Linked DNA regions of Homo sapiens: region 2 is linked to region 1. The links come from fine-mapping of genetic effects on plasma protein levels. A gene starts in region 1. The other region holds a variant in brackets. All regions are shown on one strand. Distances are between the middles of the regions. Region 1 holds the start of SPP1 (secreted phosphoprotein 1). Region 2 has its middle 37 kb from the start of SPP1.

The links. PIP is the chance, under the fine-mapping model, that this variant and not a neighbour inherited with it causes the effect. The UK Biobank Pharma Proteomics Project read protein levels with antibody pairs (Olink). The fine-mapping took linkage between variants from a reference panel, not from the people measured, so its PIPs are less certain.
Region 2: its variant is fine-mapped to the plasma level of the SPP1 protein (UK Biobank, PIP 0.97).

The regions. Positions count from the first base shown.
Region 1 is chr4:87,959,832-87,976,499 of GRCh38, reverse strand. It overlaps SPP1 (secreted phosphoprotein 1), which reads right to left and starts at 786. Exons shown (of 7, transcript NM_001040058.2): 1 at 700-786. It overlaps LOC124900730 (a long non-coding RNA gene), which reads left to right and starts at 2,731. Exons shown (of 2, transcript XR_007058172.1): 1 at 2,731-2,861; 2 at 16,117-16,277. RefSeq lists cis regulatory regions at 791-800, 835-844, 1,019-1,034, 1,472-1,480, 1,547-1,555 and 1 more, enhancers at 813-883, 646-1,145, 1,508-1,528 and promoters at 700-913, 703-1,790, 790-3,032.
Region 2 is chr4:87,930,468-87,947,135 of GRCh38, reverse strand. No RefSeq gene overlaps it. Among named protein-coding and RNA genes, the nearest start is that of SPP1, 37 kb to the left of the region's middle. RefSeq lists an enhancer at 10,484-11,305. The variant A/G (reference allele first, on the strand shown) is at 9,403.

The sequences.
Region 1 (16,668 bases):
CTCACAGAAAAAAATGAAAAAAATTTGCTTTATCCATTTTTCCAACATGTACTTTAAATGTGACTTTTAGCTTAATTATCAAGTAGGTGCTACTTAGGTGAAATCAAACTATCTCTGAAATTTGTTATTTAAGTAAGATGTTCTAAAAATTTGAAATTCAAAGGAAAACATTGAAAATAGCCAACAGCTTTTCTATTTGTAATAATAAGCCTACACAGTGTCATACAGGTATCTTGGTGAATATTTTAACAGCTAAATTTAGCAGTGGCATATTCAGAAAGGGTTTTCTTCCCCTTAAAAGTGAGATACATCATTTAAAAAATAGCATTGTAATTGGTTTAATTAGCATAAAAGATCCCTTTTCTTTTAAATTCCTGCACAGTCACCCACTGAAAATTATATAGGTATAATTATTCCAAAGGGGAATTTAATTTTACTATTTTCTGATTAGCATCGGTGGTTTCCGTTCTTTTGAGGACCCAGTGGAAGTATTTTTAAGTTTTAAATTTGATTGGCATTCAAAATATCTAGACACCTTTGTTCCAGGAGACCTGCAATGTATCTAATCTGCTTATTAAAAAGGCTAGAAAATTTAAGTCTGTTTAACAGCATTACAATTAAAAATATTTTTCCTTAGAATTTGGACTTCCCCATGAAATTCAGCTGAATGCACAACCCAGTAGCAAACTGAAGCTGTACCTTGGTCGGCGTTTGGCTGAGAAGGCTGCAACTGGCCTGAGACGAGTCTGGTCCCGACGATGCTGTGCTCTGCCTCCTCCTGCTGCTGCTGACAACCAAGCCCTCCCAGAATTTAAATGCTGCTGCAGACATCCTCCACCAACACAGGGAGGCGGAGAGATTGTGTCATGAGGTTTTCTGCCACTGCCCAGCCCACCTGCTCCCACACTTCCCCCTCTGGTTTTGTGGTTAAAACAAAAAAAAACAAAAACGCACACACACAATCTACAGTTAAAACATTACTTATGTACAATATCATTAACTAGCTTTTTCATTTACGGGATGGGCATTCAGCATCCAGGAAGAGCACTTAGGGATCCCATGAAAAAGGGAGAAAGTAGGGAAAAACATTAATGTAAAATTAAATAGAATGGATTTTTGTTTCTTTCGGTTTAAGTAACATAAAGGTAATATCTGCAACCACTCTTGCCTGTATGATTGTACTTATTGAAGAGCCAGAAGGCTATTGTTCAAGCCTGCAAGGAGTTCAGAAAACTTGCCTCTGTCCTTTACTACTCAAGCTTAGCTTTGTGATTTCGAGTATGCAGTAGCTTGTTACTTAGACAAATGGCACTAGTGACATTAAAATATAAAATTCTATATGAAATAGAAGAATGGTAATTTATTCTAGATGTTGCAGAAGTAAAGCAGTTTCTGACTGAGAGCAGGATGACTGCTTGAGAGGGCTGCTTCAGGAGCCAGACCGTGGTTCTGAATTCCGCTGTGTCACTGCTGACCTGTGCAACCTTGGGCAAATCGCCCAGCCTACCTATCCTTGTTCCCTCATCCATGAAATGCAATACTATTACCTAGGTCATGGGGTTTTTGAGGGGTTTAAATGAATTAGTATGTTAAACTAGCAATGCTTAGCACATATTAGATGCAAATGCTCTGCGTATCTTAAGGACTATATGTGTGTTAACTATTATGAAATTTTTAAGAGGGGCAGGCAGTCACGAATTGTAATGTCCTTTAAAAGAACAGGTTATTAAAATGAGAGTAGACGTAAGATCTTTAAATTGTATGCATCAATAAGGAAATTTTGCACATTTCTAAAGGAACAGATTCGATTTTGGAATCATCTTTTTTTCTAGTTTTTCTCCCAAGGTATGTAAAGTAGGCCACTTAAAAAGAAAAACATTTTTAAAAATTTCTGTATTAAAAAACACTTTACTAGGTATTTAAAAGGTGTCTGAATGAAAGAAAATTACAGGGAAAGTCCGAATATTAGAGCAGAATTCAGGGATAGCAGAGCTCTGGGTCCTTTTAAAATATTTAATATTGCCTTGAGATTACTTATCTTCATTTGCTTTCTCAGTTGTGAAATGCAGATTGCACTATTTATTTACCTTACACCTTTATTGTTAAGACTTGTGTGTAATTGAGATGAAAAATAAATGGTCCTATTTATTATTAGGTTGCTGCAAAAGTAATTGTGGTTTTTATTAGTCCTAAAGTGTCAGCTTCCTTTTGCCAAATATTACTTTTAATATAAATATAGATTAAATAATGTCTTGCAGTGATAGTGTATAGCTAATTCATAGGTTTCATGAACATTTGGTAGGGGGAAATATGTCTCCCTTAAATTGGATGTATTCCAGATGAATTGATATGATTGGTTTGTAGGTAATAAGCACCCATTTTAATAAGTAAGATGACGACTATCTCTATAAAATAGAAAGCACACAGATTATAAAGTTGCAAAATAGACTTCTTTTTTCTGCTTCTAAAAACTATTTTTTTCCTTTAAACATACCCGCATAAGCGTGTCATGTTGTCAATTTAGTGGAGGGAAGTCTGAAAATTCTAAAAACAACAAAATTTCCACAGGATTTACTGTAGTTTACTCTGTGCCCACGGGAATGATTCAATATGAAGCTAGAATTAATTATAGGAATAGATTATGCTGGAGCCCAGCCATCTTGAGATGAACCATACGACCCTTTACAGGACTCTTCTGGTCATAGCTCCGCAGTGCCACACGATGGCAGCATTTCTGAAAAAAGATTTCAGACCACAATCTGGTTCTACCAATTTTCTTAATTCCAGCGGGATAGAACACTCCTGTATTTAATGACAGGACTATATACAGCTGTGGAGCTCTCCATTTCTTGGAATGCCAGGTGAGGAAATATTTCCCAACAATGACCCGCTATGCAATCAGGGACAGAGACCCAGAGAACCAAAGCGTTCTTGTTTTGCTCTGTTGTTGCCTTAGGCAATCCCAAGTTGACACTATTGTCTCCTTCCCGACTTCTACACTCATTCAAAAAGTTCCTAGTCCCAAGGCCTCTCTCAGAGAAAAGGCTTGTGAATTCACGGGTAAAGAATGTGTCTGGGATGCTTTGGAGTTGAGAAGATAAAGTGATTTATAATGGGAGGCAATTCTGTAAAGTAGGAAATGGATGCTGCGTCATTCTGACTATCGGGGAGGTCATGTTTTGGGATGTTTCTTGCTGTTTGCACTCAAACATGCTGCTGCTGGTTGTTTTTTCTGAGTAGGATTTTCTGTCAGAATTAACATGTTAAATGATTTAAATCACAGTGGCTCTATCTGTAATATTTCCAAAGTTTCCATTCTTGATTGGCTAATGATTGGTTGTTAGAATCAAAAGGTCAAAATGCACAAATTCCCTATAAATCTTGTGAGTGGAAAGTAAAAAAAGTTTAGTTGTCAAACTAGAATGCAAAGAGTAATTTGTGATCTTAAATTATACACACTAAGAGGACACATGGAAACAAATAAAGAGCCTTAAGGTCTTTTTCCTGAATTACATGAAAATTCCCATATAATAAAAAGTAAGTGTTCAATGTCACTACTTTGGTGGACAACTTTATTAAACTCACTTCCAGTTTATTTGAACATTTCTAATTATATTTTACTTAGTAAAGTGTAACCAACTATTTCAGTGTTTTCAGCTCCACAGGTAATTATTTTTTTCCCTTGAGTCAAGGTTCAGACATGACTCTGATATTTTGGTAACACCACTAATCTGTCATAAAGAAGTTTGGAATTAAAGCTAATCGGAAGCCTAGCACCATTCATCATATATAGACTGGGAAAAGGGGCATTATTTATCACAGGGTAGCAAGCAAAGGTGGATGATAAGAGGGTGCTATTTTCAAGTTCAGACATGAAATTAGAGCATTTCAGAAATACAAAAAAAAAAAAACAAAAACACCATAAACTCTTTTATTCCATTGCTCAATAGCTTAGACAACAAAAGTCAGCTCCTGACAAAGTGGTCGTACCATTGGTAAACATTAGTTTCAATTTAAAACAAATAAAAAAAAGTTTTCCTTTAGACACATAGAACTGTTATGGAGTAAGTGCTCAATAAATTGTTGGTGATTGCCCACTCAGCCCTGCATCTATGACACGAATTCTGACCTTATAGTTTTTGCTTATGAATACAATGCATAGGCACTATGCTTGAATTCAGAGTATATCTCATATATTGATATCTAATATCTGCCTGTACTCAAGAATCTAGCATTTATTTCTTCATTAAAGTAGTATTAGTAACTCTGAGGACATTCTAATGCTCTTTAAATGATAGACTTTTTTAAGGTAGACTTAAATTACTAACTTTTTTTTCTTAAATGACACCATTCTTACCCTCATGGAGCCCATTTGTTCATGAAAATCAACTAGGAAATTTGAAACTTGAGTAACCAATGAGATTAAGGGGGTGTGGCTAAACAGTAAACTTGGCAGCACCCTGGGTAGAGAAGGTATATGGTAGAGACCCTGTGTCCACATTGGAGTTGAAGGGATGGGTATTCTGGGATTGGATCCAAACAGAAAGTCCCCCTTCCCACTCAACATCAACCACAGCAGCATAAACTCGAGACCTATAACAACCTGGGGAACAATAGAGGAGGCTGTAATCAGAGAGGATCCAAAGAGGGAGATAGAACAAGGTGGAAAAGCACAAATAGAAAGTCTAGCAGCTGCAGGAGGACCTTGTTTGTTCAGAAAAAGACATTTTGTGGCAATAAGCGGTCAGTGACAGTCATTTTGCAGATATATTTGAGGGGAGAAAATCATTCTCCGAAATTGGTTTATGAGAATTCTTGCTTAAAATCTGATGTTTGAGTAATTTTTGGTAGAGAATCTATCATAAGGTTGATATGAAAAGGTGACAATTTCAGTGCAAAAGAGAAAACAAAATCAAAAGAAAGGGGAGTAAAACTAGACAACAAAAGCAGCTCAGTCAGATATTTTTCTGGTTACACTTGGCTAAGGTTTTTTGTTTCGACAATTCTTGTCAAGGCATAGTTTACATTAATGCCCCTATCCCATAGCATAACATTTATGTTTCTTAAACCTGTAATTTAAAATATTCTATATTAAAATTTGATTTCTTCTTTAATGTTTGAATTCCTCATAGAGTGTAAGTTCCATGATATGCTAATCCCTCTGCAGATTATGTGCCAAAAATATTTATTCAGTGAAGAAATTTAGCTCAATTATGACATGTATATAGTTCTTACATAAATTGAGTTATTCTTGCTGATTATTTTCTGTTGCCTTCATAAAGCCCCAGATTAAACATATTTATTTATTTTTGAGACAGTGTCTCACTCTGTCACCCAGGCTGAAGTGCAGTGGCACGATCTCGGCTCACTGCAACCTCTGCCTCCTGGGTTCAAGCGATTCTTGTGCCTCAGCCTTCCAAGTAGCTGGGATTACAGGCATGCACCACCATGCCCAGCTAATTTTTTTTTTTTTTTTTTTTTAGTAGAGATGAAATTTTATCATGTTGGCCAGGGTGGTCTCAAACTCCTGGCCTTGAGTGATTGGCCCACCTCAGCCTCCCAAAGTGCTGGGATTACAGGCATCAACCACCGCTCCCGGCCTCCTGAATTAAACGTCTTCAGATTCCAATATAGATAGTGTTCCGCTTGAGTGAATTACACCTGAGAACTTCAGGCATGCTTCCTGTGCCTAAAAAGGACTGCCCAGGTGATTGCTATTTCTTACATAACATGAGGTCCTCTGGGGTCTGGCATTCTTCTGTCTCTCCAGCCTTATTTCTGCCCAACTTCTCTCCTTGTACTCCCTAAAACAATCATGCAGAGCCATGTGGGTTCCCCAGTGTGTCATTCTATTTCAGGTCTCCATGCCTTTACTCACATTGCATGGTCCTTATATCTAGAATATCCCTCCAGTCTCATCCGCACCTGTCTCTGAAATATTTGCACATCATGCATCAAAGCATCCCCTATAAAACCTTTTCTGGTCTAAATAGAAATAACCAACTCCCACTTTTTAACTCCTTCTGCAGCCTGCACTTGATCTAGCATAGCACCGATGAAGCTTTATTGCCTTAAATGTTTGTCCTCCTCACGCTAAAAAGCAAACTCCCAGCAGTCAGGGACTGGGATTTATTCATGTTTGTATCCACAGTTTCCTGTTAGGTGCTCTGTAAATGTTTAGAGGAACAAGTGAATGAAGGAGCATTATTTTAATAATGTTTAATCCCATGGTAGCCCAGGTAGCATGTGAGTTTAGTATAAACTCCAAGAGGCTGGAGCTTCTACTGGGTTCTTAAAATAATTTATGTATACATTTTAAAAATGCCATTGCAGAATTTGAAGAGCCTAGATTTTCTTGTCTCCCATCTCAAATTCTTTTCTATGGGGTTCTGGCATATCCTTTCTCTTGTCTAGGTCTCAAGTTCCTTGATAGAGTTAATCTGGATTATTTTAGAGGTCCATTTCAGCTCTAAAATTTTGTGATTTATGTTTCCTTTTCAAGTTCATGAGGAATAAAATATTGACACTACAACAAGAGGAGTAAACAGATGGTAGAAGTAGAGATGCTCTTGAGAGAAGTTCACACTGAAGAAAGATTTTAACTCAAAGAGTCTTTAATAGACCAGGGGACAGGTGAAGTCGAAGAGTTATGATGTTTTTAAGTAAAATATCATGTGTTTTGCTATATTTTAAACTATAGATAAAAATTAATGAGCATTATTATAATACTACTAATAAAAATAAAACTTTTTTTTAAAAAAAGGAGGTAAATCAATCCCAACCTACAATTTTAATAAATCAATCTTTCATGTTCTGAGAATTTTTTATTCTTACCTCCCACAATATGGGTTTTCTAGAGGCATTTTCCCAGTATGGGTCACATGAATTTCTTTCAGATTTCATTACCCAGAGTAGGGGATTGAGGAGAAACTGACTGAAGAGATTGGCTTGCCTCTTTCCTGGAAAATGCCTCTTGTGGTTTTTGGGGGTAGTTTTATTGCCAAACAGGTCAGGCATATAGGGCTTCGCCATAATCTGGAGATGTTTTTAGATTTTTCTTTCCCGCATTCACATCTCCTTCATTTCCAAGCATCTGTGGATTTTATTAGTCTAGATAACCTATTAATTTCACTTTGTATCTAATGATATTGTTCACGAGTCATCCAGAATCAGTTTGCCCTCTTTTCAGCCATTTCATGCTTAACGCAATTTCTGCTGCTTGTTTTTTCCCTAAGAAACAAGGGAATTTTCTGGTAATTATTATGCCCTTAACATTTACTTTTTCTACAGTAACAAAGAGTGAGCCCAAAACTTCTGTCTTTGCCTTTTAAAAGGAGAGATATTCAAAATAATAACAACAATAATAACAACAATAATGGTAATTGTATATATATTTATGGGACACCTGTAAAGTACTAGATTTAAAAATATGCATTTTGTCTAATATTCATAACGATGACATAAGTTTGGTATTATGACCTCAATTTTTTCACATAACTATAATAGAAGCCATTTAATGTGCCGGTCACTTCTGTTTACCTGATTGCATTTACTCTTTGCATAAATATTAGGTGTATATTTACAGGGCCAGTAGGGTTCCAGGGAAGGAAGTGTTTAGTTCTACACATCAGTGTTAAGAAAAGCTTTCAAGAGGATGCTAAGATGCAGCTCAGTTGAGGAGCTAATATTTAGAGACAAACTTATTTATTTATTTATTTGAGACAAGATCTTGCTCAGTCACCCATGCTGGAGTGCAGTGGTGTGATCGCGGCTCACTGTAGCCTCGACCTCCCAGGCTCAGGCGCTCTTCCTGCCTTAGCCTTCCCAGTAGCTTAGACTATAGGTGTGCACCACCAGACCTGGCTGATTTTTAAATTTTTGTAGAGACGAGGTCTCCCTATGTTGCCCAGGCTGGTCTCAAACTCCTGGACTCAAAGATCCTCCTGCCTCAGCTCCCAAAATGCCTCCCAAAGTGGTCTTGGGGTTGAAAGCGCGAGCCCGCATGCCTGGCCCCAGAGACTAACTTCTAAGATGTGAATCAAAATTATAAGCATCCAAATTTGACCAAACTTGGTTAAAATGAAAAGAAAAAAACAAAAAACAAAAACAAAAACCCAAATAACCATACAACAAAAGCTGTAAGTTCCAATGATACCGAAGAGAGAAATTTTGTAAGGATTTTCAAAAATCTTGCCTCTAACAAGTTCAAATCTAAGAAGAACAAAAGCTTAATTTTTTCACATATGCCACCCAGCTAACGCCATGCTATGGTCATGAGCCATACAGTGTGGGAGAGTGTCAGTATGTCTCTGCTAATCTCAAACAGCTGTGAATCACCAGTTCAAAACACACACCTACTGATTATGGGTTAATATCATTAGCTTCATTCTTAATAGATACAATGATCTTAAATATTAGTTTTCTTGACTCTCTAAACTTTGAACAAATTGCTTATTGTATTTTAACAAGTATCATATTTCTACAGAAAGACATGTTTCATAGTTGGTCTTATGCCTTACCACATTTGAATTCTATGTAGCACCTACCATAATAATTGTGCAGGTACTGTTGGCTGTACACCAAAGATGTGTTGTCTTCAGAGTAGTTGCTGGGAAGCAGCTGCCCAGCTGAAACTACATTTCTCAGCCTCCCTTGCATTTAGATGTGGCCATATGTCTAGTTCTTGCTAAGGGAATGTAAAACAAAGTGATGTGTTTCCCTTCCAGGCGGAAGTGCCTAAAAACTTCAAAAAGCGTGCCTCCCCCATAGTCTTCTTCCTTACCCTTTCACCAGATGAAGAGGACTGAAGCATTTTGGATAGCAGAGCCCAGGGAGAACATGACTTGAGCTGTCTGCTGATCTGGAACCCTAGCATTAGATATCGTATTGTTACAGGATCTTTGGAGTGTTGCTTTTTTGGCCAGAAACATACAGCCGGTGGTGCCTTTGCCTCTGGCCCACTGGACTCATTCTGCCCACTCAGCCTGGCAGGCTGTGTTCAGCTCATGCTACTGGCCTGGATCCCATGCCTCCAAGGGATGCCGCGAGTCAGGCATGGAGTGGCAATGGGGTGTGAATGAGCATAGAGTCTGGCCACTGTGCAGTCAGACACGCCAGCTGCTGCTGCGGGGCAGGAAGCTCCAGGTGCCGACATGGGCGCCAGCTCTCTTCAAGGCTGTGGCTGGACCAGCGCCCCACAGGCAGCTGTCCTGGCTCATACTAGGGAATGTGGTGGTGCCCAGAGGCTCAGAGACACCAGGGACCACAGGGTCTCAAAAAGGGAGTCACAGCCCTAGCTCAGGGAGATCCCAGGTCTAGGCTCCCTGAAGGGCTGCAGCTCTTCTCTCCTCTTTGCCCACCAACAAAACGAGCAAGGGGCATATTTCAGCTCTGTTTGTGTTACAGCTCTTTTAGCATCACCATTCCACAAGTCCTGAGTTCTTGTCCTGTGACCAGGAAGAATGAGGTACATAGACAAGTGGAGGGTGAGGAAGACGAAGAGGAGTTTTATTGAGCAACAGAACACCTCAGGGAAGACTCACAGTGGGCAGCTCCTCTCCATAGCTAGGGTGTCCTGACGAGTGTTCAGCTCCTATCAGAGATATAGGCAGGTCATCCCGAAAAGTGTTCAGTTCTCAGCAGAGTGGGTATCTCCTCTCTGCTGCTGGCTGTCCCTTCATCTCTCCATCCTCTGCCCTGGTGTTGCTGAGCCCAGGGCATTTATGGACCTCAGAGGTGAAGAAGTGCACACCAATTGGTCCATGGGCAACCATGGGCAGGCCTGGAAAAGACACCACGAGTCTCCGCTCCAGTCTGTGGGACTGGCAGCCTGGCCCCCAGCCTTCAGGCTCTCCCTGGCCTGAAAATGGGGCCTCACCTGGACCTGCCCCCTTCTGCCCAGGAGCCGGTCTGCCTCCTGTGGCTGTCCATGGCACCCAGGCTGCTTGCACAAAGGGGCACTTGCAAGCCAGCACTGAGCTGCCCTCATCCTCACCTCCACTTCCCTCCCCGCAACACTCATCAGTGCCCAAAGTCTGGAGGAGGCCGAGGTGGCAGGGGGCTGGTGTGTCAGTGCTGTCCGGAGCATGCGCACAGCCAGCTGGGCTGTGACAGCTCTCCGGCTTGGCCCCAACCCCACTCCAAGATTGGAGTGGGTGCCAGGAGTGGGGAGAGACCAGGCAGCAGGAGCAGACAGGCCCCCTAGGGTGCAGACTGCACAGACTCCCAGGTCCTGCTCCTGGGAGGGCGGGGCTTTTGCCCACCCAGCTCACAGCCTTGTCTGAGGGGGACCCTTTGGGAGTGGATCAGGGCCTGGCCTGGCAGTTGAGAGTGTCAGGCCCGGTGATCACCTCAATGCGGGACGGAACCCCTGGACACAGCCCCAGTCAGCCCTGTGCAGAGCCTTCTCCTGACGTGCAGGAACTTGGCTTGGTGGGGTGGGTGCTGTCACTGCAAAAATTGGCTGGGTCCTGAAGCGGGCACTGCTCCCACTTCCAGCCATGGGGCCCTGAAGCACACCCCAGGTCAGCGCCTTGGCTCGGCCACCACGCTCTGTGTGCAAGCGTCACACTGCCCTGGACCCAGTTCTGCCTTGGGGACCCTCTCTGCCTGACAGCTGCTCCCCTGCCCATGGGCGACTTGGCCTGGCCCCATCGTGGTGGCCCCCAGGGCTGTGGGCTTCGGGGACTGTCTGCCTCTTCCACACATCCTCCCTGCAGCAGCAGAGGGTGACAGCAGCAACGCGGGGCCAGGGGCTGAGCTACGGAGGCTCTGGGCCTGGGGATAGGTCCTGCCCTGCAGTGCTAGGGTCCCGGTGGCGTAGTCGGCTGCCTCCCAGACATTGGACATAGGGCACAGGGGTACCCCCTCCCCCGCAACCCGCCACTACTGCTCCCACAGCCGCTCCTGCCACCACCGCTGGCGCCTCCCAGCTGCAGCTGGCAAGATGACAGCAACCGCTCCGGATGGCCCACCGTTGCCATCAGTATGAATGAGAAATAAGTTTCTATTGCCTTTAGTGCCTGACATCTGTTACGATAGCAGATGTTACCTTAATTAACACAATGCCATATGCATAATATTGCTCAGTTCATAGCTTTTGGATTTTATCGTCTGTGTTCCAGGTCACTAGACTCATGAAACGGAATTTAAGTTATGGTGCTATAACTTTATATGTATCTATTTTCTATTAATTTTTGCTCCCCCATTTCTAAAAGCCAGAATAAGTTCATGCGAGGTTACTAATATGTTAAAATTGAAGTTGATTATTTTATACAATAAGTATGTGACTAATTTTTTCCACAAGGAGATGGTATGCAATATCAGTAGATAAGTGATTAGGATAGCGGGCTTCTCTTGATCCTCTGTTTTTGTTTTTCCCACTTTTGCAAGAAGAGAATCAGCTGTGGTATAGGTTTTAGTGGATAGTGTCCCATGTTGGGAATCTGGGAACCTGAATTTTATCTTGCCTATACCACATAATTAAATATTGTTAAGTTGGCTTATTTCTGAGAAGAAAGAGGCTACAGCTGCCTTCCACTAAATGATAAATTCATCTCGCAACTTCTGAATCGTTCACACAGCATCATTTGCTTTTACTTCTTAGTTAGGCCACCTGTTTTTTGGATACCTTTTGCTTTTTGACCTTCTAACAAGTAGCCAGTGGCAGTTAGAGATCAAGTTAAATTGTCCAGGCTTGGTCCTCAAGTCTGTAATCCCAGCACTTTGATTGCTTGTGCTTAGGAGTTCAAGACCAGCCTGGTCAACATGGCAAAAACCCTGTCTCTATGAAAATAAATAAATAAATAAATAAATAAGAGATCAAGTTAAAATCAACCCATCTAGTTATATTTGAGAACTTAAAGTCATGTTCTCTGAAGGTTTTGAATGACTTCCGTTTACTAGTAAGGATGTGTTCACAGATTAATTTTAGTCTTAGTTGCCTCTCACCAGATCAAATATTGTGTGGGAGGTAAATTCTAGGAAACCTGAAGAATTTTAAAGCACTCTACCATCCTCATATGGAGATGACCATAATTAAAGGAAACAGTAGCTTATGTCAGAAACTGTTTATTGTTGGGAGCTGAAGCTTTGACCCTTTCCTGTATATTTATTTCACTGATATTCCTAAACCTTTGGTGGTCTTTTGGTCTGTGGGTCATAGCTGGGCTAAGGGGTTAGCCAGAGTTCTTAGTGAAGTAGCAAAAGAGGTTATGTGTGACATATCAGCAGAGTGGGTACACCCATTTGTCTGGGTTGGGGAGGAAGTGGAGGCTGGGATCAGTAAAGTGGCCTTTTTCTGTTTTTAGACAGTGCCAAAGCATCTCAGACTGGGGTTTCAGCTTTATTTTTGTTTACGAGGAGTTGGTTCAGACACAAGTGAAATTGTGGTGTCTTAACCTCTAGTAAGATTGAAAACATACATGTTGTTTCATCAAGCTTGGTCTCTTAGGAACCCGGTTTATCGTAGAGATGATGTTATTCTGAATTTAGAAGGAAAAGGGTGACAGAGTTTCATTACAAAGATTATAAAGATGATGATTACAAAGATTACAAACATTTTGTAATCGCTGACTAGAATATAAATGAGTATAAAAATTTTACTTTTTAAGAAGGATAGAAATCCTACATACAGTAAATCTATTTTTCTAAAACATGTTTTACTTCCACAGCAGTTTTATAAAATTGGCAGCTGACTTATTTTTTGTGGTCCTATCTTCTAGCCTGAGTGTTAACCAGGTGGACAGGCAGATTAGGATTAGGAAATAAGATCAATTAAACTTTTATCCTATAGTACCAGGTTTGAGCGGGTACATGGTTGTGTGTAGATCTTTCTTTCACACACAGGATTTGAGTGTTTTTTTTTTTTAACAAAAATTTATGAAACATAAAAGTATAGAGTAAACAGTTGAGGAATTTACTAAAAGAAAGCTAAGAATTCAGAAAGAATTCTAAAAGAAAGCTAAGTGTTGGAGTAAATATTGCACAAAATATAAAACATTTAGTTCTATACATTGGCATGTAAATGTTAATTTTAGTTGCTTTGAAACAACAAAATAAAAATATCAATTTCAGTTATGGTTTAAAAATACACATTGTATGTATCCATGCAGTTAACCAAAATGCATTTTTGAAAAAAAAGGGTGATAAGAATCCTAAAAGATAAAAATGAGACCTCTATTAAAAATAGTATTTCCTATCTAGCACTATGATTCCAGTCCTAGACTCTCCCAGCTGGAAGAGAGATGGTAGGAAGGCAGGGCATTGAGAAAAAAGGGGATGGTTCTTGACTTGTGGCTTCATTTCAGCTCTAAGACAACTTAAATTCTAAAAGTGCAGAAAATCACAAGGAATGAAGATTAGAGCAGATTTAGTTCAAATAAAAAAAGATGCCCTCAATGACAGTCAATTCCATGTATTCAGAAAGCAGTACTGGAATTGACATTATGAGGTGGGGAGGTGGGTTTCTTCTTGGCAGCTGGCTCTTTTCTGATGTGTTCAAGCTTCTAATCAGATGAAACTAGAAGACTTCAGCTGCTTGCATCATTTGTCTTTATCTTTCTAGATCAGGAGTTCAAAAGCCCTTTGCCCAAATCCATTCATAGATTATTTTTGTAAATGAAGTTTTATTGGAACATGGCCATACCCATTCATTTACGCGTCATTTATGTTGTAGCTTTAGTGCTGTAACAGTAAAGTTGCATAGTTGTGATAGAGACCATATGGCCTGCAAAGCCTAAAATATTTGCTCTCTGACAGAAAAAGTTTGCTCACCTCTATTCCAGATGAAATATCTTTTTAATTTTAGTCTATTCTTTAGCTCAAGTATATGAGTGAATCCTTCACCCTCATCCCTACCCTGTCATTTCTAGTTACATCAAGTCAGTTTTGAGGTGCAATGGACTGTGTTCGATATACTGTGTCAGATGCATGAGCATAGCTCTGAACCATTCAATACAATGCTTTCTCTTTTGTTTTCATGCATCCTGATAATGCCTTGCGTTATGGTCGGCATGGGTCACTGAATCAATGATATTAGGGATAAGTATTTAATGATCTTTTGATCCCTTTCTGGTAATAAGTAACAGTTCCTTTTACAAAATCTTGTACTTTGAATTTGTACCAGGTATAAATAATCCTACTTGCATTTGACATGTAACTTATCTGACACTTGTCTTTTACTTACCTGTTAATTTTTTTGCCTTTTCTTTACAGTCTCTTATGGATAGTTCTGTAGTTATCCCTGTTGTCCTCACTTTCTTTAAAAAAAAAATTTTTTTTTGAGACACGGTCTTGCTTAGTCATCCAGGCTGGAGTGCAGTGGCCCAGTCATGACTCACTGCTGCCTTGACCTCCTAGGCTCAAGAGATTCTCCCACCTCAGCTACCTGAGTAGCTGGAACTACAGGCCATGTGCCACCTTGCCCAGCTAATTTTTTTTTTTTTTTGGTAGAGATGAGGTCTGACTATGTTGCCCAGGCTGGTCTCATGTTCTCACTTTCACTAATCAAAGATCTTAGAATCATTTGTAAATCTTTGAATTGTAATAAGAATAATATCAGTATCTTTAATATGCATGGTCCTTTAAAAATTTGAAGTACTTTCAGATTGACTGTCTAAATTGATGCTTGTAACTGTGTTTGCTTCTGGGAAAGGGATCTGATTGGCTAGAGGAAAGAATGGGAGGGAAACAAATTTTCAGAGAAATAATTTTTATAGCTTTTAAATTTTGTATAATGTGTGCATTAGCTACCTATTGCTGAGTAGCAAATTACCACCAGTTTAACAGATTAAAGCAACACACATATATTATCTCAGAGTTTCTGTGGGTCAGGAATGCAGGCACAGCTTAACTACGTTCTCTGTATCAGAGTGTCTCACGAAGCTGGTATTAAAGTGTCAGTCAGGGTTCAGTCTCATTCAAAGGCTTGGTTGTGGAAGGATCTGCTTCCAAGCTTACATAGTTGTTGGCAGGATTCAGTTCCTTGAGGACTATTGGACTGAGGGCCTCAGTTCCCACTTATCTGTTTGCTGGAGGCATCCCTACTTCTCCGACATGACAACTCGCTTTATCAAAGCACACAAGCTGAGAAGGCAATAGAGGAGTCTGCTTGCAAAACAGAAGTCAAAATTTTGTGTTACCTAATCATGAAAATGTCATCCCATTATTTTTGCCATATTAGATTCCTTAGAACAAGTTGTTAGGCCATCCCACACTCAAGGGGAGCGAATTACATGGGGGCATGAATACCACAAATTGGGGATCACGGTGGGCTATTTTAGACTCAGCCCAGCACAAAGAATATGTATTACCTATTTAGTAAAATTAAATAAATAAAAGTGCTTTTAGATATCCAAGACTTTTAAATGAAAATGCAAGTCTCAGTACAATATGTAAAATATGACTCAATTTTTGTAAATAAAAAAGAACATGTGCACATACACACACATATAAAAATGTACACAAAATGGTGAGAATGCTACACATCCAATGGTCAGCAATGATTATGCCTATGGAGCAGAGTGAGAGACGAATGGGTATAAAGAAACTTTCACAATTGAATCTACCTCTTCTCAACACAATAAGAAAGGAATTATGGTCATTTTATTAATACAAAGTTGTAGAGGATAAATGGTTTTTCAATGGCATATACTTACTTAATTGCAGGACCAGGTCTCAGAAGATGGTTTGCCTGAACAGCCAAGATTTTTCTATCCAAGTTATTTATTTTTAAACCAAATTGTTTTATTCAAATAATTTATTAAAAAGTTTAAAAGATTATTTATAAGAATGATAAATACTAGTTTCTCCACTGATACCGAGCACATCTTATTGGGTGGCCATCACCATTCAATATGTCTGATCACCAAGACATTTTTTAACCCATGATAAAACAGAAATTTATATTTAACCCTATGGTAAGTACTATGGTTTGAATGTGTTTGTCTCCTACAATACTCATGCTGAAATTTATCCCCAGTTCAACAGTATTGGGAGCTGTGGCCTTTAGGTGATTGAGTCATGAGGAGTCCGCCCTCATATAAGTGGGATTAAGTGTCCTTATCAAAGAGTTTGACAGAATTTTGCCCCTCTTGTGCCCTTCTCCCTTATACCAAGTGAGAACACAGCATTTCTGTCCTTTGGAAGATACAGCAACAAGGCACCATCTTGGAAACAGAGAGAAGCCCTCACCAGACAACCAAACCTGCCAGTGCCTTCATCTTGGACTTCCCAGCCTCCAGAACTTTGATAAATAAATGTCTGTTCTTTATAAATTATCCAGTTTTAGGAATTTTGTTATAGCAGCACAAATGGACTTAGACAATAGGGATGCCAGATTTAGCAAAGGAAAATATGGCATTTCCCACCTGTCGGTAGTGAAGGGATCTTTTCCAGCAGACCCATCAGCTCTCAAGTTTCCCCTTTTGGGGAGGAGAAAGCTCCTCATGTCCCATGGTCCTGTACATGCCTAATTCTGTTACCCATAGCGATCAGCAAAGAGTGCAAGGCAGATTAATCCAAAGAGGATAGTAGTTAACATCCCATAGTGCCAAACCCATTCTTAGCCACAGGGACTTTACTGAGAGGGGACTCTAACTCCCTAAATCTTAGGAAGGACTCTAACCTTCCTAAATTGGGCCTCAGACCCAAGTTTGGTCAAGCATCCTT
Region 2 (16,668 bases), 29 kb after region 1:
GGAAGCCCAAGCTAGCCCATGCAGAGAGACCACATGCAGAAACTCTGAAACCAAATGGACAGAGTGGGGGTGGTGGTGCCTGGTTATCACCCAGGCGCCCAGTCCTCATTATACCAGCTCTAGCCATTGTTTGGCTGCAACTGCGGGAGCAGTCTCAAGCCAGAACTACCAAGCCCAGCCCTTCCTGAATTCCTGACCCAGAGATTCCAGGATTGTAAAAAATATTTTAGCATAACTATTTGTTTTGCAGTAATAGTCATGAAACATTCTCCTTTTATCACTTGAGCCTTCTTAGTGACAGAAAGAGGTTCTCTGTGAAGTGTGAAATAACAGAGTAAATAACATCATACTGAGCAAATCTTAAGTTTGCTCACAGAAAAACACTAAAATGTGAAATATCTTTAGTTCTGGAAGGATTTAGGGTTCTCAAAAGCGCAGGCCTTCTGCAGAACACCCATTTCACCCACATATCAGTCTACTGAAGTCTGCTGTTCCTCAGCAAAGTTTTCTCCTCAGAAGGGGATGATTGTTTAGTTCTATTTTATAAAGAAGTTTGAGGCCAGGCGCGGTGGCTCACGCTCGTAATCCCAGCACTTTGGGAGGCCGAGGCGGGCGGATCACAAGGTCAGGACCTCAAGACCGTCCTGGCTAACATGGTGAAACCCCGTCTCTACTAAAAATACAAAAAGTTAGCCGGGCGTGGTGGCGGGCGCCTGTAGTCCCAGCTACTCGGGACGCTGAGGCAGAAGAATGGCGTGAACCCGGGAGGGGGAGCTTGCAGTGAGCTGAGATCGGGCCACTGCACTCCAGCCTGGGCGACAGAGCAAGACTCCGTCTCAAAAAAAAAAAGCAAAGCTTGAAGCTTATGTGCTAATTACTACTGAACACTTTTAAATATTCAAAAATTAATAACGGTTACTCTAAATGAGAATTTAAAATGCCAGTTAGGCATGTTACCATGCTGCCCAACAACTCCCTCAGGCTTTCCACATATTATACCACTCCCATTAGACGTGGGTGAGTGCCATTCGTCTTCGTCCCCATAGCTTCACTCCCTGGTAGGGTATGGGAATGTTCAGAATTCTGCCACACATATAAGCAACTATTAGCAAACAGATATAAAAGCACTTATTCAATCTCGTTCAGTCCTTTGTCCTTTTGTCATTCCACAAGATCCACTTTAAGGCAGCCTTGTCAATATTTCAGTGTAGGATGAGCCAATCATCTACTAGGATCCGGTAAACAGCCTTGTATGAAATGTAAGTGTGTGTATGTGTGTGCACTTAGGACAGAAGGGGATGGGGTGGGGTTGGGAGACGCAGGCCTGATGAACAGAACTTCAGAGCCACAGCCATGTCCTGTTGAGCCTGCCAGATTTTTACACCTTTTTCCTGCAAGGAAAAGAGTGTTTATATAGACTTTCTAGCCAATTATATTTATTAAATACTACTAATCACAGCAATGTAAGGTTATTTCTAATATCCCTGATGCTATTTTTTAAACGTTTTGGTGAAGATTTAGATGGGGAAATTTGAAGCACTTGCTAAAAGCAACTCTCAAATGTGTACTGCTGATTATGGTTTTCCAAACACTTACTGTGCCTGTGTGTGAATTACTGCTTAGAATATTACAAATATTAGCTAACTGCACCCAGGGTGGTGATTAAAGTTCACACACACACACACACACACACACACTTAACTCATTCTGCTTTGGTGAAATATTGTAAACTGTTTTTCCGACAATTTGACAGCATCACATGCACAAGGTGAAACCAAATCTTTTCTTTGACCTTTAAGTCGCTACATAATCCGTCCCCATGTTATGCTCTCACCTCATGTACACTCTTCCTCTAACGCACCCCACTCCAATCATATGTATGTCTTTCCTATTTCTCCAACCTGCTTGGGCTCCACGTGCCACATCACCTGTGCTTCTGTGGTCCGTTCTGCCTGGAATATTCCCTCGGATGGTCACGTGACTGGTTCCTTCACCTCACTCAAGTGTCTTCACAGATGCTACTTCCTCAAGAAGGCTTTCCCCATCATCTTCGTACTTCTCAGTCTTTATTATTTTGTCTCTGTTTCTTCATAGAATTTATCCTTACTTGGCATTTTGTAAGACAGTAATTAATTAGTTAGTTAATTTTTTTGCCTGTCTCTACCACTAGGATGTGAGGCCTATGTTGGTAGAAAATTTTCTCCTTGGTTCACTGCTTTATCACTAGTGCCTGGAGCATGACGGGCCCTCAAAAGCTTTCTTAAATGGATGGATTGAGTAGTATTCATCCAAACTCTATCTTATATTCTGTTGTGTTATAGCTTTCTTTTTAAAATTGTATATATTTTAAATGTACAACATGGTGTTTTGATTTGTGTATGTTACAGCTTTCTTAATTCATTGAATTTTGATAGGTAACATTTGAGTAATTCTTTGAGATGCAATCCATAGTGCAAAGTCGGCTGGTGCATTCTGGGCAGTAACACAAAGGCTGGCTCTTGGTAGCTAGTGCTGAAACCAGGGCTGGTGCCCATGACATTTGTTTATCCATTTTGTTCATTTGTTTATAAAACAAAACTCTGAAACATGATGTGTCAGGAACTGTGGTAGCTCAATAGTAAGGTATAAGGAAACTCTGCCCTCATCAAGAATAAAGTCTATCAGGGAAGAAAGACAATTAAACAAGCAATTAAAATCAATCATGGTAGTGCTATTGTGAGATAAATACAGGATGCTATGCAACAGGGATAGGAGGAAGAGGTAGCATCTGCCAGTTTATGGGAGCTGACTGTTAAATTTCTGGGAATTTTGCGAGCTCATTTTAAACACAGACATTATTAAAAATTGTTATGTAAACTTATAATTAGATAAATTATATCAAAAATAAATTAGATAAATTATACTAAAAAGCAAAGGTAATAAATGCCCCATCATTTCCTGATGATCTTGTTGCTGAGGTTCTTTATGGCTGTCGTTGTGTGGTGGAATTGTTCTTAATGCTGGCTACCGCACACATTTCCCTAACTCTTCATTCAATGACATCATGTTGGTAGCTCAAGATAAACCATGGCGTGAGTATTCACACCATGGAAATTGCTGCAGATCAGGGTTTTTTCCTTCAAAGAGCCAGTTATAGACATTTACCAGCATGCCATTGCTCTCAGAGCACACAGCACAACACCTAACCTCACCTGGGGACATCAGACAACGAACCTGAAAGGGGAAGCAGGAGTTAACCAGGTGAAAGCTGCATGGATGATAGAGAGTATCCCCTCCAACATCAAGGCCAAACAGGTGAGATAGCTCTTATTTGCATTCAGCACACCATCATTCTGCCTCTGTATGCCTTTTTTCTTCAGGTTACTCTTCCAAAAATACATACTCCATGTATATATATGGATGTATAATTTATCAATATATATAGCTAACACTATGAACCTTCATTAAATTTCTTTTCTGTTCATTTAGGACAATATTTAATTAAAGCCATGATAGAAGTGCCCCAACAGGCCATATTTCACCTTGTTTACTCAGCTTCATTGTTTTTTCCTTTAAAATAATCAAGGTTTTATTAACTATAAATTGGAATATTGTGTTTATAACTTGTGAGATAAGAAGAGAAAGAATGTCTGTACTGAAATTTGACATTTATTTTTATCTTTTTTAAATTTAAAAAATTTTTATTATACTTTAAGTTCTGGGATACATGTGCAGAATATGCAGGTTTGTTACCTATAAGAGTTGTGTATTTCAAAAACTGAAATCTCATAAAAAGTTAAATTTTTGTCTGACAAAAAAAATTCTTTCCTTTAAGAATGTTGAATAATGGCCCCCACTCTCTTCTGGCTTGTAGGGCTTCTGCAGAGAGATCTGCTGTTAGTCTGATGGGCTTCCCTTTGTGGGTAACCCGACCTTTCTCTCTGGCTGCCCTTAACATTGTTTCCTTCATTTCAACCTTGGTGAATCTGACGATTTTGTGTCTTGGGGTTGCTCTTCTCGAGGAGTATCTTTGCGATGTTCTGTGTATTTCCTGAATTTGAATGTTGGCCTGTCTTCCTAGGTTGGGGAAGTTCTCCTGGGTAATATCCTGAAGTGTGTTTTCCAACTTGGTTCCATTCTCCCATTACTTTCAGGAACACCAATCAAACATAGGTTTTGTCTTTTCATATAGTCCCATATTTCTTGGAGGTTTTGTTCATTGCTTGTCATTCTTTTTTCTCTAATCTTGTCTTCATGCTTTATTTCATTAAGTTGATATTCAATCTCTGATATCCTTTCTTCTGCTTGATCGATTTGGCTATTGATACTTGTGTATGCTTCATGACGTTCTCATGCTGTGTTTTTCAGCTCCATCAGGTCATTTATGTTCTTTTCTAAACTGGTTATTCTAGTTAGTAGTTCCTGTAACTTTTTATCAAGGTTCTTAACTTCCTTGCATTGAGTTAGAACATTCTCCTTTAGTTCAGAGGAGTTTGTTATTACCCACCTTCTGTAGCCTACTTCTGTCAATTCGTCAAACTCATCCTCTGCCCAGTTTTGTTCCCTTGCTGGCGAGGAGTTGTGAACCTTTGGAGGAGAAGAGGCATTCTGGTTTTGGAATTTTCAGCCTTTTTGCGCCGGTTTTTCCTCATCTTTGTGGATTTACCTACCTTTTTGGTCTTTGATGTTGGTGACCTTCGGATGGGGTTTTTGGGTGGGCATCCTGTTTGTTGATGTTGATGTTATTGCTTTCTGTTTGTTAATTTTCCTTCTAATAGTCAGGACCTTCTTCTGCAGGTCTGCTGGAATTTGCTAGAGGTCCACTCCAGCTCCAGACCCTGTTTGCCTAAGTATCACCAGCAGAGGCTGCAGAACAGCAAAGATTGCTGCCTGTTCCTTCCTCTGGAATCTTCTTCCCAGAGGGGCACCTGCCAGATGCCAGCTGGTGCTCTCCTGTATGAGATGTCTGTCGACCCCTGCTGGGAGGTGTCTCCCAGTCAGGAGGCATGGGGGTCAGGGACCCAGTTGAGGAGGCAGTCTGTCCCTTATCAGAGCTCCAGTGCTGTGGTGGGAGATTCATTGCTCTCTTCAGAGCCTGCAGGCAGGAACGTTTAAGTCTGCTGACGCCCACAGCCGCCCCTTCCCCCAGGTGTCTCAGTTTCTTTTTTATAGTAGTAGATTCAATAGCTTCTCTACTAATGCTTTTTATCATGCTGATTTTAGTTGTATCTTTCTATTTGCATTCAGGGCCTATAGAGTCCTTCACATTTTGGCTGAAGGAAAGAAAGAAAACACTTAGACCTTGATTTACTGAATCCTGGGAGAAATGACCTCCTATAGACTTGCTTATATGTAGCCCTAATGTTTTGGTATCCTAGAGGATAGGCCTGGACTATTGACTCATTGCAAAACCTGTAAATGTGTTAACAAACTCCTCTTTGAGCTATCCAGACTGGACCTCTAGGTTTTCTGGGAAACATCACAGAGAATATTGTTTTCACGTTTCTCTACCATTTATCTTCTGCAGAAACCACCAGAGTATCATATTCTTAAGGGTGTCTTTTTTTTATTTTTTTTTACCTTTTGAAAATCACAGATCTAGAAATGTAGTCAGCTTCTGCTGTCTGATGAACGAGCTCATGTTGATGGCAAAACCTTCACCTGTCATTTTGGTGAATGATGTATCCAGATCCTGTTACATCATTATGAGGCCACAAATGGAAAAGTAAAAACAAATGGGAGTACAGTAGAGAAACAATGTTTCCAGAGGCATTTAAAAAGCATTTCCAGTCTCTCTGTCTCTCTTTTTGTTTTTCTTTAAATCTTCTCCCAGAATGTACCATATAATGACATTGATGCCTGGTTTTCATTTTGTTTTTTAATAGAGGACATGGACCTTGTATAGTTTGTGGCCATGACCTTAACATTTTTGTATTTCCATGAGTATCTTGCAAGGCAATTTAGAAAAATAGAGGGATGGGTGCAGTGGTTCATGCCTGTAATCCCAGGACTTTGGGAGGCAGAAGCAGGAGGATTGCTTGAGCCCAAGAGTTTGAGGCCAGCCCGGGCAACATAGTGAGACTCCATTCCTACAAAAAAAGAAAAAGCCAGGTATGGTGGTGAGTGCTTGTAGTCCAAGCTACTTGGGAGGCTGAGGTGGGAGGATGGCTTGAGCCTGGGAAGTGGAGGCTGCAGTGAGCCGTGATCATTGCACTCCAGCCTGGGCAACAGAGCAAGACCCTGCCTCAAAAAAAATAGAAACCACTTTTTATAGAATTTCTTTTGGACAATTCTACACTTAAAAAATATGCTTGTGCTGTTTTCAGTGATCTGAAATAAGAATAATTCCCTAGGGATTTGTATCTTTTTTTTTTTTTTTTTTTTTTTTTTTTTTTTTTTTTTTTTAACTCCTAAGAAGAAAGTGTGGACAGGCAGACTTCAAGTGTAACATTCATGGAGTTAATTAAGTTGCCATTTATTTTGCTAACCAGAGAGGAACCACTGATTTTGTCAAAAAGATGAAACGCTTGAGTGTCTTCAAAAAATCTAATAAAACATAGCTTCCCACTTCATACTGAAGAGAATTGTCCTGATAGTTTTTTCTCCATTATGCAACTGGGAAGAGCCAAACAGAGAATATTTTCCTTGTGCTGGGGCTGGAATAATGAAGAAAGCCACAGACCTTGGGCAAATTACTCTACTTCTCTAAGAGTGTTGAAAATCTGTTTTAAATTAAGAACTGATGGAGTGAGCAGCACTATTTTTATAGCAAGAACGATTTAAAAAATGTTCCTTGTAAAAACATTACATGAAAATTTTAGTTTTAGTTTTTGTTAAAATAAGATTTTATTGACTTTCTACTAGAAGAATAGAAATAGGAAATTGCAAAAGGCATCAATTTCTCCTTTCAGTACAGTCTCCCAGAAGTAATCCTTTTTAACAATGTGTAATAAGTGATGTGTTGACATGACTGTTAAGACTATTATGAAAAGGCTAAAGAAAGAAGCATGAAAGCAAGATTGACAGAGTCATGCAGGGAAACAAAGGCTAGTTCCTGGCTCACTCTCCAAAGTGCACTCCTGAATGATCTTCCACAGGTTTAAACTCATTCTTAGATTATGGTTACCCTTCTGCTTTCTGGGTACTTTTATATCAAGGCTTCAAAGTGCTTTATAAATATACGCACCAGAAAAAAAAGTACTTTTAAGGGTCTTATTGGATGGATAAAGTAATTTGCCTTTGCTGTGGGCTGTCTAGACAGTGGCACATCCAAATGCAATGATTTTTTGTGGACTCTGGAGATTGCATAAGAACCAGCCTCTGTTTTTGGTCCATCCTGCTCACCACTAAAATGCGAATTGTCCAAGTTCTTTTGCACGGGCAACTTATGCTGAGCTCAGCCATCAGGACCTTCCCTGCGTGAGGTGAGGGTGCTTAGTGATTTTATTTCACATCCACATTGCCACTCCAATCAGAAGTTTGGCAGTTTCCAAGGGTGCTTCCCTGGACAGGACACAGAATTCTGCTTTTTATGGAAACTGCTACCTAAACATCCTATTAAACTCAGGGAATCCAACTCCCTCCTGGAGCAAGACCAGATCTCCTTTTGACCTCAAAGTCTCAAATACCCCACCAACCACTAATAGGACACTACTTTATTCCCACTCTAGCCCTGAAATCCACAAGTTATTAACACTTCTCTGAGCAAGAGTGCCCAGCATTCAGAAAAAATTAGCCAGGTGTTATTTTCATTTGACCAAACGACCTTCTCATTCCTTGGCTAATGAGTCCATATAACAGTGGGAAAAATTTTATTAATATATTATTTTGGGGGGACCATTTGTCAATGACTGTAGATTACCATAGATATAAGATGGTAATGCCACTTGCAGTTGATGTGGTATCTTCACTGAAACAGCAAAATAAAACATAGCCCTTGGCCCGTATGTAGTTACTGATCTAGCAAATGCTTTTTGACATCTCTATCAGCTAAGTTAATAAGAAGCAGTTTGTTTTCAAGTTGCAGGGATAGCAGGATACTTTACTGACTTCCCTAAGGGCTATCTACATCAACTCACCCATTTCTCTTATAATGTGCTTTGGAGGGAACAGAACTTTATGCTAGTCCATTACTTTTATGAAATTATGCCAACTGGACTGTATGAGCAGGAACTATCAAGAACCTATATGCCTTAAGTAAGACACATGAATGCTAGAGGGTGCTAGAGGACCTGCCACATAGGCAAAGTTATTAGGTATCCAGTCATCTTGTTTGGGTACTTTGGGGTATCCCTACTAAAGTGAGATATCAGTTTCTGCATCTTGCCTGGTTCACTGCAAGGAAGGAGGCACAGCATTTTGTAAGCATCTTTGGATTTGGGAGGCTTCATATACCACATATGGGGATGCTGCTCCTAATATTTGCTGGAAAATCTGTCAGGCTGCCAGTTTTGAGTAGGGTCACACCAAGAAAAGCACAAAAGGCTCTTCAGCAAGTCTAGGCTGCTTCACTCTTATGATCTGTTAGACTCAAGGCACTAAACATTAGCTTCAGACAGAGATGTTATAGAGAGCTTCTGGCAGGCTTACAGGGCGAGACTCTCAGGTGTTTAGAATAAGACTTGGCCTCTTCTGACAACTATTCTTGACTTGAAAAACACCTTTTAGTTTGCTGCTGGGTGAGTCAAAGACTGAACACCTGACTTGAAAATAATAAAATATGCGTCATAAATTTAGACATGCACATATCATTCCAGTGTAAAATGAAAATGTTATATATGAGACAGGGCCAAGAAGGGTCTGGAGGCACAAATAAACTGCGTGAGTGAGTGGCTCAGACTTCCATGGTAGCTGCTGTTACTACTCTCTTGCTTTTCCCTTGGACAACTGCTCCAATTCGTTGAGGGAATTCTCTATGACCAGCTGAAGGAGAAGAAAGAATGGGCCTGGCTTATGGATGGATGGCATGTGGACCTCTAAGAGAAATGGATAGCTACTGCATTACAGCCCCACATGGGTGGCACTGAAAGATAGTGAGGAAAGAAAATGTTCTCAGGAGGCAGAATTTTGGGCAGTCTTTTGGGTGTCTATTTAATGTGGAAGGGGAGATAGCACAAAGGGTGAATTGGCCAGTGGTTAAGGAACTGGAAAGAACAAAATAAGAAGAGTGGTGACAAGGTCTGGGGAGATGTCTGTGATGGGCCTCTCAGCATGGGCACAGAGTGGGAAGATATTTGTATCCCATGTAAATGCCCATTAGAGGGCATCCAAGTGGTGAATGAGTGCTTTGAATAATTAAATGGATAAGATGATCTCTCTTAGGGATGTCAGTCTGCCTAATTCCCTAGCCATTTGTATGATTTGTCAATGGTGGTATACAAAATGAACATGGTGGCAGGAATGGAGGCTATGCATGGTCTCACC[A/G]ATATGAGCTCAGTTTCACCATGACTGATTTGTCTACACCGTCACTGAGTATTCAATCTGCCTATAGCAATATGTACCTGAAATATGACACCATTCATGATATTCAGGTAAGTCTCCTGTGGAATGGCATATGTAGACTCATTTATGGAACCATATGGAGACAAATCTTGTGAGGACAAGGTGTTACAGTGTTCCATCTGCTATTCTACTACTCCTCAGGGATTATTCAGGCCCCCTCCTTTCCCTACACATCAAGCTCGAGGATTTGCCCCACCCAGGACTGACAAATTAGCTTTACTCAACATGTCCCGAGTCAGATAACTGAAATACCTCTTAGTCTAGGTAGATACTTTCACTGGATAGGTAGAGGCCTTTCCTACAGGGTCTGAGAAGGCCACCGCAGTCATTTCTTCCGTTCTGTCAGACATAATTCCTCAGTTTAGCCTTCCCACCTCAATACAGTCTGATAACAGACGAGCCTTTATTAGTCAAATCAGCCAAGCAGTTTTTCAGGCTCTTAGTATTCAGTGAAACCTTTATATCCCTTACGGTCCTCCGTCTTCAAGAAAAGTAGAATGGACTAAAGGTCTTTTAAAAACACACCTCACCAAGCTCAGCCACCAACTTAAAAAGGACTGGACAATACTTTTACCACTTTCCCTTCTCAGAATTCAGGCCTGTCCTCGGAATGCTACAGGATACAGCCCATTTAAGCTCCTGTATAGACGCTCCTTTTTATTAGGCCCCAGTCTCATTCCAGACACCAGACCAACTTAGACTGTGGCCCAAAAAACTTGTCATCCCTACTATCTTCTGTCTAGTCATACTCCTATTCAGCGTTCTCAACTACTCATACATGCCCTGCTCTTGTTTACACTGCCGGTTTACACTGTTTCTCCAAGCCACCACAGCTGATATCTCCTGGTGCTATCCCCAAACTGCCACTCTTAACTCTTGAAGTAAATAAATAATCTTTGCTGGCAGGACTATGCTGAATCTCCTTAGGCACTCTCTAATCAGATGTCCTGAGTCATCCCAATTCTTAAACCTTTTATGCCTGTTTTTCTCCTTCTGTTATTCCATTTAGTTTTTCAATTCGCACAAAACCGTATCCAGGCCATCACCAATCATTCTATACGACAAATGTTTCTTCTAACATCCCCACAATATCACCCCTTACCACAAGGCCTCCCTTCAGCTTAATCTCTCCCACTCTAGGTTCCCACGCCACCCCTAATCCCGCTTGAAGCAGCCCTGAGAAACATCGCCCATTCTCTCTCCATACCACCCCCCAAAAATTTTCGCTGCCCCAACACTTCGACACTATTTTGTTTTATTTTTCTTATTAATATAAGAAGGCAGGAATGTCAGGCCTCTGAGCCCAAGCCAAGCCATCGCATCCCCTGTGACTTGCACCTATACGCCCAGATGGCCTGAAGTAACTGAAGAATCACAAAAGAAGTGAATATGCCCTGCCCCACCTTAACTGATGACATTCCACCACAAAAGAAGTGTAAATGGCCGGTCCTTGCCTTAAGTGATGACATTACCTGTGAAAGTCCTTTTCCTGGCTCATCCTGGCTCGAAAACACCGCCACTGAGCACCTTGCGACCCCCACTCCTGCCCGCCAGAGAACAACCCCCCTTTGACTGTAATTTTCCTTTACCTACCCAAATCCTGTAAAACGGCCCCACCCCTATCTCCCTTCACTGACTCTCTTTTCGGACTCAGCCCACCTGCACCCAGGTGATTAAAAGCTTTATTGCTCACACAAAGCCTGTTTGGTGGTCTCTTCACACGGATGTGCATGAAACCTTAGTACCTTGAATCAAAAGCCACTGGCCTTGTTCAAATCCTAAGAATCCCTTCTGAATCTTTGTGCGCACAGTTACGGCTTCAACAAAATGAGAAACTGACATTTAATCTGACATTTATTCATTCATTCAACAAATATTTGTTGAACACTTGCCATTGTTACCAATGGCAGGTATCTGAGTTACCAGCGGTGAATCCAAACTGTAACACTATGAGCCAGGAATTGTTTTAGGTAGTTGTTATGCATCTGTGAACAAACAAAAAGATTCCTGCCCTCCTGGGGCATATTGAAATATAGAAAGTGAGTATGATATGAAAAGACTTTAGAGAACTCTGGAAATACCATGAATTAATGCCATGAATTGATGAGTTAGTAGAATCCAACATAACTGAAATATGAAATCTAAAAACTAATATATCTAATAATTTATAGGTCTGAACCTAAAAATCTATTAAGATATTTTTGAGGTAGGAATTTACTCTATGTTACTGCCACTTAAGGAGCTGCCAATAATTCTCACAAATAATCAAAAGAATCAATCTTTCCTGTCCATCTAATTCTCCAGAGCTTATTGAGATTCTGCAAAGGAAAAAAATAACTCTGGCTTCCCATGGAAATGCAAATTCATGGGACCCTCCCTGCCCTTTCCATTAATGGGCAGCCCAGGTGATTCTTAAGTAGAGGACCCTGAGAATCAAACTTTGAAAATTCAAATTGCTGCTTTTCTCTTAGCTAATGACCTATATTAAATTACATTTACTACAGGGAAGGCAGAGTTGCCTTTTGCTCAGGTGTGTCAGCCAGCGGTTAGTTTTTTGTCTTGAAATGCAAACGTTTTACAGCACTTTTTTTCAAGTATGTGTGGTACCCATTCTCAATCCCTGATGCTAGGAAGGAGATGGATTTCTATTCAATTAGTTTTTAAAGGATATTCTGAAAGAAATGGAGCCTTACTCTTGAGAGGAAGGAAGTATGAAGGGGATTGATAGAGTTGTTCTCTATTTTATTTTGCATCTACAATGTAATTACAACTGCCTTTAAGAAGTGACTTCTTAGTCTGATAAATGCAATAACAACTTGATGACTGAGAAAGTGACTCAATAAATTACTGAAAATCTATCACATTACTTTGCAAACAGACAAAATAGTCAAACAAAAATCAAATTATTACTCTGAGATTTTTTTCATGGGTGTGTTTGATAGTTATACTTGTGTTTCTCTTAATTTTAACTGATGGTCTATGCTAAATTAGAAAAAATTAAATATTATATAGACACTTCTTGAATAATAGGGGTTTTCATTAGGCAGTTTGGTTTTAAAATGTTCAAATTTTTCTAAGAGTGCACTTGGTTATACACCAAGCTTGTTCAACCTGTGGCCTGCAGGCTGTATGTGACCCAGGACGGCTTAGAATGTGGCTCAACACAAATTCGTAAACTTTCTTAAAACATTATGAGATTTTTTTTGTGATTTTTTTTTTTTTTAGCTCATCAGCTATCATTAGTGTTAGTGTGTTTTATGTGTGGCCCAAGACAACTCTTCTTTCAGTGTGGCCCAGGGAAGCTAAAAGATTGGACATCTCTGTTATACACAATTGTGATCAGAAGTAAGCACCACTCAAGAATGAAATGAAAGTTGTTTTGCATATGACAGGAAATATTTTATTTTATACCAAGTGGATATCCTAGAAAAAAATGGATAAATTACTAGAAAAATGCCATCTACCAAGATTTAATCATGAAATAAAAAGTCTGAACAAACCTATAACCAGTAAGGAGACTGAATCAGTAATCAAAAACCTCCCAGAAAAGAAAAGACAAGGACCAGATGGTTTCATTGGAAAATTCTACCAAATATTTAAAGAAAGGTTAACACCAATCCTTCTCAAGCTCTTCCAGAAAATTAAAGAGGAGGCAAAACCCAATCTTATTCTCTGAGCCCAAAATTAACCTGATAGCAAAGCCAGATCAATCTGCTATGAGAAAAGAATACTATGAGGTTCAATATCCATGATAAATATTAATGCAAAAATTCTGAATAAAATTCTAGCAGAGTTCAAATGTACCTTAAAAGGATTACACACCATGACTAAGTGGGTTTTATCTCTAAGAGGCAAGGGTTATTCAACATATAAAAACCAATCAGTGTAATAAACCACATTAACAGAAGAAAGGATAAAAATTACATAATCATCTCAATTGACACAAAAAGCATTTGACAAAATTTTAATGCCTTTTTATTATAAAAACACTCAACAAACTAGAAATAGAGATACTTTACCTCAACAAAATAAAGGCCATATATGAAAAGCCCACAGCTAGCATCATACTCAATAATGAAAGACTGAAAGCTTTTCATATAAGAGATCAGGAACAAGGCAAGAATGTCCACTCTCTCCACTTCTATTCAACATAGTACTGGCAGTCCTAGCAATTAGGCAAAAACAATTAGGAAAGAAAAAGAAATACAAGGTATCTAAATTGAAAAGGAAGAAATAAAATTATCTGTTCGCAGATGACATTGTTACTGGAAAAGGATCCTGATCCAGAACCCAGGAAAGGGTTCTTGGACCTTGCACAAGAAAGAATTTGGGGCGAGTTCAAAGAGTAAAGTGAAAGTAAGTTTATTAAAAACCTAAAGAAACAAAAGAATGGCTACTCCATAGGCAGAGCAGCAGTATGGGTTGCTCAACTGGATATATTTATAGTTATTTCTTGATTTTATGCTAAACAAGGGGTGGATTATTCGTGAGTTTTCTGGGAAAGGGACAGAGATTTCTCAGAACTGAGGGTCCCTCCTGTTTTTAAACTATAGAGGGTAACTTCCAGTCATTGCCATGGCATTTGTGAACTGTCATGGCGCTGGTGGGAGTGCCTTTTAATATGCTAATACATTATAATTGGCATATAATGAGCAGTGAGGACGTTTAGAGGTCACGTTCATCATCATCTTGGTTTTGGTGAGTTTTGGCCAGCTTCTTTACCTCATCCTGTTTTATCAGCAAGGTCTTTGTAACTTGTATCTTGTGCTGACCTCCTTTCTCATCCTGTGACTAAGAATGCTTAATCTCCTGGGAACACAGCCCAGTAGGTCTCAGTCTTATTTTACCCACCCCCTATTCAAGATGGAGTCACTCTAGTTCGAACGCCTCTGACCATATTTGTAGAGACCTGTAAGAACTCCACAAAAAAAGCTGTTTAAGCTAATAAATGAATTCAGCAAAGTTGCAAGATACAAAATCAACACACAAAAATCAGTTGCATTTCTATACATTAACAATGAACAACCTTAAAAGATAATTAAGAAAAAAATTCATTTATTATAGCATCAAAAATATATAATACTTAGGAATAAACTTATGCAAAGAGGTGAAAGACTTATACACTAAAAACTACACCACATTGCTGAAAGAAATTAAAGAAGACACAAATCAATGAAAAAACATCCTATTTTCACAGATTGCAAGACTTAATATTATTAAAATATGCAAACTATGTAAAGTAATCTACAGATTCGATGCCATCCCTATGAAATTTCAATGGAATTTTTAAAAATAAAAAATTCTCAAATTCATATGAAATCTCAAAAGAAGCCATATAGTCAAAACAATCCTAAGAGAAATGAGAAAACCAGAATCCTCACACTTCCTGATTACAAAACATATTCCAAAGCTACTGCAATCAAAACAGTATGGTATTGATGTAAAGACAGACATACAGACCAGTGGACCAGAATAGAGTCCAGAGATATATTTTCATGGGGATTGAACCATTTTGCATCACCACTAACAGTGCACAGGGGTTCCAATTTCTCCACATTCTTGCCAGCCCTTGTTATTTTCTGTTTTTGTTTTTTTTTTGTTTGTTTTTGTTGTTGTTTTTGTTTTTTAAATAGCAGCCATGCTAATAGGTATAAAGTGATATCTCACTGTGGCTTTGACATGCGTTTTCTAAATAATTAGTGATGTTGAACACCTTTTCATATGCTTTTTGGGCATTTGTATATCTTCTATGGAGAAATATGTATATAAGTCCTTTGCCAATTTTTTAAGTTGGGTTATTTTTGTTGTTAAGTTACAGGTGTTCTTCATATATTCTTGATATTGACTCCTTCCCAGATATATGATTTGCAAATATTTTATCCTATTCCATAAATTGTCTTTTCACTCTGTTGATTGCTTTCTTTGCTGTGCAGAAGCTTTTTAGTTTGATGTAGTTCCATTTGTCTATTTTTGCTTTCATTGCTTGTGCTTTTGGTGTCATAGCCAATAAATCATTGCCAAATTCAGCTTTGTAAAGATTCTTCCCTATTATTTTAGGAGTTTTAAAGTTTCAGATCTTTAATCCCATTTTGACTTCATTTTAAAATATGGTATAATGTAAGAGTCCAACTTCATTCTTTTGTACATAGATATTCAGTTTTCTCAATACCATTTGTTGAAGAAAATATTCTTTCCCCACTTTATAGTCTCAGTGCCCTTGTTGAAGATCACTTGACCAGTGGGTATAGAGTCAGTTTTGCAAGATGAAAAGTTCAAGAAACCTGTCAAAACAATGAGCTATAGTTAGCATTACTATGCTGTACACTTAAAAATGGTTGAGATAGTAAATTTTATGGTTTTTACCACATTAAAATAATGAAATAAAATATTGCCAGCACCACAGAAGTCCCTTGAAACTATCTTAATCAATCACTTACACCAGCCTCAAAGGTGATTATTATATCTAACATTATAATTTAATTTTGCCTGTTCTTGACATTTATATTAAAGGAAATTAATATTATGCTTTGAGATATATCTATGTTGTAGCATGTAGCTGTAGTTTATTCTTTTCTATTGCTACATGGTATTCCATTCTACTGTTGATGCCTATTTTAGTCATTTCCACTCTAGGTCTATTATAAATAATGCTGCTTTAAACATTCTTGTATATTTCTCTTGTTTCACATGTGCACATATTTCTATTAAGTACATACCAATGAGCAGAATAGCTAAAAATGGCATAAATAGGGTGACCATCTAACTTGCTTTCTCCAGCAATAGCACCTCTCCGTGCCAATTATCCCAGCATTTTAGCAAGTTTAGCCTGTGTCCTTGTCCTTCCCTCCCTCCCTCCCTTCCTCTCTCCTTTCCTCCCTCCCTCCCTCCTTTCCTCTCTCCCTCCTCCCTTCCTTCCTTGACTTTATTCTTGTGCCCTTTACATTCTAGTTGAAGTCCCTTTTTTCTCATTGAAACACCTTTGTCACTCAACTTTTTATACCTTAAGTCTGCTTAATGACATAATTCATACTATAAGCAAATAGGCTACAAACTACAGCAGTGCAGGCTGCCCTGGCAGTAATGAGGCATCGATCAGACTCCTTTAGAAATTATCTGGATCTGGACAGAAGACATTTGCAATAGGCTTAAAAATGTTTCAACATTTCTACCAGAATAGTCAGAAATAAT